Linked DNA regions of Homo sapiens. The protein of the gene in region 2 purifies or fractionates together with the protein of the main gene of each other region. This does not show direct contact. Each region holds a gene or a part of one and is shown on either strand. Other genes may lie near its edges. The genes, in order: GOLGA4 and ACADSB.

The links.
Region 1: the proteins of ACADSB (region 2) and GOLGA4 purify together in Homo sapiens (affinity purification with mass spectrometry; one large-scale study listed by BioGRID and IntAct). This does not show direct contact.

Annotation. Positions count from the first base shown.
Region 1 is NC_000003.12:37,361,488-37,365,314, forward strand, and holds part of GOLGA4 (golgin subfamily A member 4), read left to right. Parts: intron 1-3,827. UniProt on the Homo sapiens protein: Involved in vesicular trafficking at the Golgi apparatus level. May play a role in delivery of transport vesicles containing GPI-linked proteins from the trans-Golgi network through its interaction with MACF1. Involved in endosome-to-Golgi trafficking.
Region 2 is NC_000010.11:123,043,186-123,047,012, reverse strand, and holds part of ACADSB (short/branched chain specific acyl-CoA dehydrogenase, mitochondrial isoform 1 precursor), read right to left. Parts: intron 2,621-3,827; coding exon 2,528-2,620; intron 1-2,527. UniProt on the Homo sapiens protein: Short and branched chain specific acyl-CoA dehydrogenase that catalyzes the removal of one hydrogen from C-2 and C-3 of the fatty acyl-CoA thioester, resulting in the formation of trans-2-enoyl-CoA.

The DNA.
Region 1 (3,827 bases), on a different chromosome or scaffold from region 2:
CAGTAAGAGTTATATAATTTTAGGAAATTTCATTTCTTTAAAGAGTAATTGAAAGTTTGAAAATTGCTCTTTGAAATTTTGTTAAAGAATCCAAAAAAGTATTTATGTAACTTATTTTCCCTTTTGTTTTTAATTTTCCAAGAATGATCTTTGAAATTATGATTGTGAGAGAGAAATGAAAAATCATTTTCTAGATAAAAATGAAGTGGTATATTCCGTGAGAATTCAAAATCCTGTAAAGCCTGAGTCAAGGCCAGTCAGAAATAATGAAAACTAGTAAGATCAATTTTAAAATATAGCTTCATTACTTCCTGAAATCAGACAGTTTAACACAAGACAACACATTTGTCCTGAGGAGACCGTTAGGCAGCCTACTTTAATTGAATGTGATTCTTCCTGATTAACATATTACAGTGAAATGCAGGCATATGAAATGTTTCAACGCAGTTGACTGTCTTCATCATTTAAACCCTCTCCCCTCATCTCTATGTATTTTTCATGCTATTAGGTTGATTTAGCACCCTCTGAAAATGTACCATACATCTTTACCTCAGCCTTTGCTAGAATTTTCACAAAATCAAAAACAGATCACAATTAGTAGGGCTTCACTATAATTAAAATAAATACTCTCAGTGATTGTTAATATCCAGCTAATAATAGTATCAAGGTTTAAAATGGCAAGATACAACATTTCTCCGTTCTTTTAAGCTTTTATTTATTTATTTATTTATTTATTTATTTATTTATTTATTATTTTTTTTTTTTTTGAGACGGAGTCTCGCTCTGTCGCCCAGGCTGGAGTGCAGTGGCGGGATCTCGGCTCACTGCAAGCTCCGCCTCCCGGGTTCACGCCATTCTCCTGCCTCAGCCTCCCAAGTAGCTGGGACTACAGGCGCCCGCCACTACGCCCGGCTAATTTTTTGTATTTTTTTTTAGTAGAGACGGGGTTTCACCGTTTTAGCCAGGATGGTCTCGATCTCCTGACCTCGTGATCCGCCCGCCTCGGCCTCCCAAAGTGCTGGGATTACAGGCGTGAGCCGCGCCCGGCCTTATTTATTTTTTTTTAAAAAATAAGTAAAGCCTTTATCACCCTGGCTGGAGGGCAGTAGTGTGATCATAGTTCATTCCTGTGTCAGCTCCTGGGCTCAAGGGATCCTCCCACCTCAGCCTCCCAAATAACTGGGACTCTAAGGCACCTATTTTTTTATTTTATTTTATTTTGTAGTGATGGTCTTGCATAGGCTGGTCTCGAACTCCTGGGCTCAAGCGATCTTCCTACCTCAGCCTCTAAGCTTTTTTTTTTTTTTTTTTTTGAGACGGAGTCTCGCTCTGTCACCCAGGCTAGAGTGCAGTGGCGTGTTTTTGGCTCACTGCAAGCCCCGCCTCCTGGGTTCACACCATTCTCCTCCCTCAGCCTCCTGAGTAGCTGGGACTACAGGTACCCGCCACCATGCCCAGCTAATTTTTTGTATTTTTAGTAGAGACAGGGTTTCACCGTGTTATTCAGGATAGTCTCGATCTCCTGACCTCATGATCTGCCCACCTTGGCCTCCCAAAGTGCTGGGATTACAGGCGTGAGCCACTGTGCCTGGCCCTCTAAGCTTTTATCTTTAAAAATCTTCTGTGCCTTCATTTGAGCCTCCTTTTGATTTTAATATATATTATTTGATTTGCCTTAGCGATTATCCAGAACTGTCTTATTTTTGTCATCCACATTACAATGGCTGGCAGTACAATGCATGGTTTTATTAGGTTACTTTGATAATAAATGTGAACATTGAAAAACTGTAAATTCTATAGCTAACCCATTAAGTCTTAATGTTTTCCTTTTAAAATAATACTGCATTGTACTTGTTATTATTGCAGCTGAATATCAATTATCACTGGAAATGTATATTGTGCAGCATTTCTATTAATTGATTAATTGATTGTCTCCTCAACTTTTAGTTTGAAACATTTCAGACATAAGATTTGCAAAAATAGTACAATGAACACCCATATACCCTTCACCTAGTAATGTTTGGCCAGATTTTCTGACTTGCTGTCACTCTTGTTCTCTCTCCATTTATATTATTCCCCATTTGTAACATTTGGCAATTACTTGCCGACATGCTTGCAAGCATTTGACAATTGTAAACATAAACTAAGTACTTTAGCATGTATCTTTAAGAACAAGGACATTTTTCTACATACAGTACAGTTATTACACTCAGGAAGTTTAATATTAGCTAATACTAATATATAGTACATAATACTCAGTTTTTTACAGTTTTCCAAATAATGTCTCCCATAATTTTTTAGAATCCAGGATCCACTTGAGATTTCACATTGCATTTAGTGGTCATATTTTCCTAGTCTTTTTTAAACTAGAAAACGTCTAGCTTTTTTGTTTTTAATGATGCAGCATTGTTGAACTGATCTTGAATTTTGTTTCCCACAACAGATCAAGCTACGGTTTCAAAATAAAAACTGACAAGGAATTTACGTATAACAGAAGATCTTGTTGGTGTCTTCTTTAGGTTCCTAGGACCAACATGATTATTGAACTAGTTTTATAAATAATATACTATTAGTAGTACATTATGAGTAGTGAAATATTTGTTCATTTACAAATTCAGAAGACTAAAACTCCCCCTATCCACTTAATATATATGGAAAGTTTGCCTCTATTAATCTTACTTGGTAATTTATTTTTATGGGATTTTAAACTCATATCTTGATGTGACTACTGGTTTTAGCATTTTCTTTTCCTTTTCTTTTTTTTATATTTGAGACGGAGTTTCACTCTTGTTGCCCAGGCTAGAGTGCAGTGGCGCAATCTCGGCTCACTGCAACCTCCACCTCCCAGGCTCAAGTGATTCTCCTGCCTCAGCCTCCTGAGTAGCTGGGGTTACAGGTGCCCGCCACCACACCCAGCTTATTTTTTGTATTTTTAGTAGAGACCGGGTTTCACCATGTTGGCCAGGCTGGTCTCGAACTCCTGACCTCAGGTGATCCACCTGCCTTGGCCTCCCATAGTGCTGGGATTACAGGCGTGAGCCACTGCTCCTGGCCAGCATTTTCATTTGAGAAACATTATGAGGAAGACTTTGGCTATGTCATAGCTTTTTTTTTTTTTTTTGCCCCCCAGCATGGTCACACCAGCCTAGAGTGCAGTGGCGTGAACACAGTTCACTGCAGCCTTGACCTCCTGGGCTCAAGGAATCCTCCCGCCTCAGCCTTCTGAGTAGCTGGGACCACAGACACATGCCACCACACCTAGCTATTTTTTTTAAAAAAAAGTTTGTAGATACAGGGTCTTGCCATGTTGCCCAGGCTGGTCTTGAACTCCTGGGCTCAAGCAGTCCTCTGACCCTGGTCTCCCAAAAGTGCTGGGATTATAGGCATAAGCCACCATGCCCAGCCAGCATTTCTAATTAATTTATTTTTTGAGACAAGGTGTCACTGTCGCCAAGCCTGGAGTGCAGTGGTACAGTCAGCTCACTGCAGCCTTGACTTCCCAGGCTCAAGCGATCCTCCTGCCTCAACCTCCTGAGTAGCTGGGACTACAGACACACACCATCATGCCTGTCTAATTTTTTCTATTTTTTGTAGCAATGGGATCTCACTATGTTGCCCAGGCTGTTTTTAATTTTTAAATTAAATTTCTTAATTCCAGATGAGACATAAATTTCCACACCAAAATGCTGTTTGTCTTTTGCTATTATGTCATGCTGGGAGAATTGCAATTTGTAGAATAATCAGCACACTGGATAAGAGGAAAGAGCTCTTTCTCATCTTTATTTTTTATTGTTTTTTTGAGGCAGTCTCTCACTCTGTTGCCCAGG
Region 2 (3,827 bases):
AAAATTTTGAGTGATTTCATGTGAATATGAGCACATTTAATTCTAGCAGAGGTAAATCTCCCAGCAAGGCTGTGTTCACACAACCTTTTTAGGTTAAGATTACTCTTTAGGAATCTTCCTTAAGCTTTGATTCTCCAGGTATAAAATGAGCCATAGAAGTTTTGCTCAGAACTGGCCTTGAAGGCTATAGAGGAAGGCCCTCCAGTTCTTCTAGAAGTAAAATATGGAAGGTCACTTCTTAACTTTCTACCTTTCCGTCTATTTTGTATATGATTAGGATTAATGAGAGCTTCAATGGGAGGGCATTAGAACATAAGAGAGCAGTGGTTCTGAATCCGAGCTGTACCATAGAATCATTTGGGGAATCTGATTTAAAACAATACTGATACCCAGGCCTAATGACTGAATCCAAATCTTGGGAGTAGAGTAGGTGAAGGAGTGTGACCTAAACCTCAACTCTGTAAAACTCCTTAGTGACTTAATACACAGCTAGGGTTGAGAACAATGGATAGAAAGCATCTAGTAAAAACATTAATTTACACAGGACGTGGTGACAATTTTAGCTGAACTGTCTCACTGCTAACCAACTTTCATATCTATTATATGATTCAAGCTTAGAAATCGTTTCTAAATTTCAACATTAGGTAGCCACTAAATCAGTAATTATGTCAAATTATGGTTTTAGAAAATCAATAGCTAAAGCTTTTGGGGGAAATGCCCAGCAGACTTATCAATTTATTTCATTAGTATTCATTCACATTTTCTTTTAGTCTTTTATTCTGAACTCTCTAGAGAACAGAATAATATGTTAAAAATTAAAGGCACAAGAAAACCACAAACCCCAAATTCAAATGAGGCAGCAGACTCACTGCACTCTTGGCTGTGAGATAAGATGATGTCACTATACCCTTACAGCTAAAATTTGTACATAAATAATACCCTATATTGACACGAAGACTGAAATAATCAGTTATCCATCAAAATGGGCTTTTCTACCTCAGTAAAATGTTTCTACTACAAACACTGAAAAACTGAATTCTCTCTGCCTGCAAGGTTTCGAGGACAGATGCCTTCAGTTCACTGTTATACTCCGTGTGCCTCTTCCTCTCAAAGGTATCCACTGAGATAGTAACTACCTGATCTTAACTTTTAATTAGGTTATTATATAACTTGGAGTAATTAAACTGAAGCCCAGGCTGTGTATTTTATTGCCAGAACATCTATATTATTTATATGTCTGAAAAAAATGAGCTCTAGTATTGCAGTTTCTAATGTCATGTCTAAGTTGAATCACAGAAAAACTTTTAAGAGAACTGATAAAACAATATTCTTTAGTGACACACTGTCAAGCATTGTAGGAAAACTAGACTAAGTTTTGGTCTAAAAATAGTTAGCAAAGTAACAGCAGCAGAAAAAAATCTAGAGTAATAATCTAATATTTATTCCAATAGCTTATATGTAACATCTTCAAAACTGAAAAGCTCTAAGTTCTTGAGTTTTGTATAATCACTGATTAAAAATATACTCTACAAACGCCGGGCGCGGTGGCTCACGCCTGTAATCCCAGCACTTTGGGAGGCCGAGGCGGGTGGATCACGAGGTCAGGAGATTGAGACCATCCTGGCTAACATGGTGAAACCTCATCTCTACTAAAAATACAAAAAAAATTGGCTGGGCGTGGTGGCGGGCGCCTGTAGTCCCAGCTACTCGGGAGGCTGAGGCAGGAGAATGGCATGAACCCAGGAGGCGGAGCTTGCAGTGAGCCGAGATCGCACCACTGCACTCCGGCCTGGGCAACAGAGCAAGACTCCATCTCAAAAAAAAAAAAAAAAAAAAAAAAATATATATATATATATATATATATATATATATATATATATACACTCTACAAAACTGACACTAAAGTAAAGCCAAAGACCTTATTCATTTTGTTAATCTGGAAAATAACTGATATTACTTAATAGAAAAATGCAATATGCATTATAAAAGCCAAATTTGGTAAAAAAAAATTTTGAATAGTTCTCATTTTATGTATCTACTTAACTGTGGCTATTTTATTTCATGTGCCGCCAAAAAACTTGCCCAGTTTTCACATGCAAAACAGTAAGCAACAAATCTTTTATTAACTATAGATATCTTTACTACACAGTGGAAGGAATATTATTTATTCTTAATGTAAAAAATTCCTTCCAGAATGAATTTCATGCTTTGAAAAGTTGATTTTTTTTAAAGTGCCATATTTAATTTACAATACATTTGAAAAGCTATCGGTTCAGGTATTAGATAATACTTTAATGTTCTCAAAGCAGAAACACTGTTACCACCAAGCCATTGTTTGGTTCTATGGACACTTACATAATTGACCAAAAGGGAATTTGAAAGAAATAATAAGCCATTCTATCCCTCATGTAAGGGAACGGTGCCATCTTGTGTCCATAAGCTTCCAAATATTCATTGGTCTCATTGCATTTTTTTCTTTTCACAGTTTAATTGACTCACATCATGGAAGAGTTTAAATCTGACTTACCTGTGCAGCAATTCCTATTCTACCTTCATTGAGACTCCCTATGGCATACTTATAGCCATGTCCAATTTGTCCCAAGATATTGGCTTCTGGAACCTGAAAATACAAATGTGCACTTATTTCTCAGTTTCATTTTCCATGATTCATTTTGATTATATATTTGTAAGTACACATAGACTCTCAATTCGTGTGCTAGCCCTCTCACAGAACTTGCCGGCATCTGTGTCTCCCTCTACGCTGTTTTTCCACAGCTCTCTGAGGAAAAGGACTCAAGTCCATGCTGTTCATGATTGCATCCTCCAGAGCCTTGCACAGGTATTGAATGGATGAGTGAATCTAGAGTAAGGGAATCTCATAGAATTCATCAATAACATAAATTAATACTTTTCCCCCCCAATTCTTATCTGTAGGCTACAGTGTGAGATAACATATTAGGAACTACAAAGATCTGCAAATACTTGCAAAAACAAGTGTAGTAAGCCTTTCTGCTGTTGAGACCATTCACCCTCATAAAAATCAACGGTGGGGTATATGTGTGTGTGCATGTGTGTACACAGGTGTATGCACAAGAAAGAGGAAGAGAGAAGAAACAGACTAAAATGCTTATTCATACTTTAAAAAAATAAAGAATTAAGAATAATAAAAAACTATACTTAGTTTTGTAATATGGGTAGTTGGGGGAGAGAGCAGGGAAGAATGGAGAAAGAAATGGGAAAGTAAGAATGAGGAAAACAGTTGGGGTGAAGTAATGAGGCCCCAGTGACATCTGTAAAGACATCCTCCCCCTCACTCCCCACAGCCATGCAAAAAAAAGATCAAGCTCTGTGATGAGTGGTGGAAAAGCCGACACCACCTGCCCCACCTACAGGGAGTTCTCCAGCATCAGCACTAACTATCTGGATCTTCTGCTGCTCACGTTTAATAGCCTGGCTGTTTCCGCTCTCACTGAGCAACACCCCCATCTTGTGGCCTTTAGTGCACTGACACCAGACTTCCTTCTCTGCGGCCCCATTTGGTTCACAAGTCTCAAGCTTATAAAGTATACGTGGTCAGAAGCACATAAGTTATAAAACATAAATGGGATGAATTCTTGGCACTTGCTTCCCAGGACAGCTTCTTGGCAGAAAGGTTTCCACTTTTGTGAAAAGTACATTTATCTGGTCATGACTAAAGAGCGCTGTTCAGGGTTTTACAAAATACTCTCCTGCGTGTGCTTATAGCCACTTAGTATTTTGACACCTGTCTTGCACACCTCCTGTGGTTCCATGCAAGGCTTATTTCGCATCAGTCTTTTACTGATTAG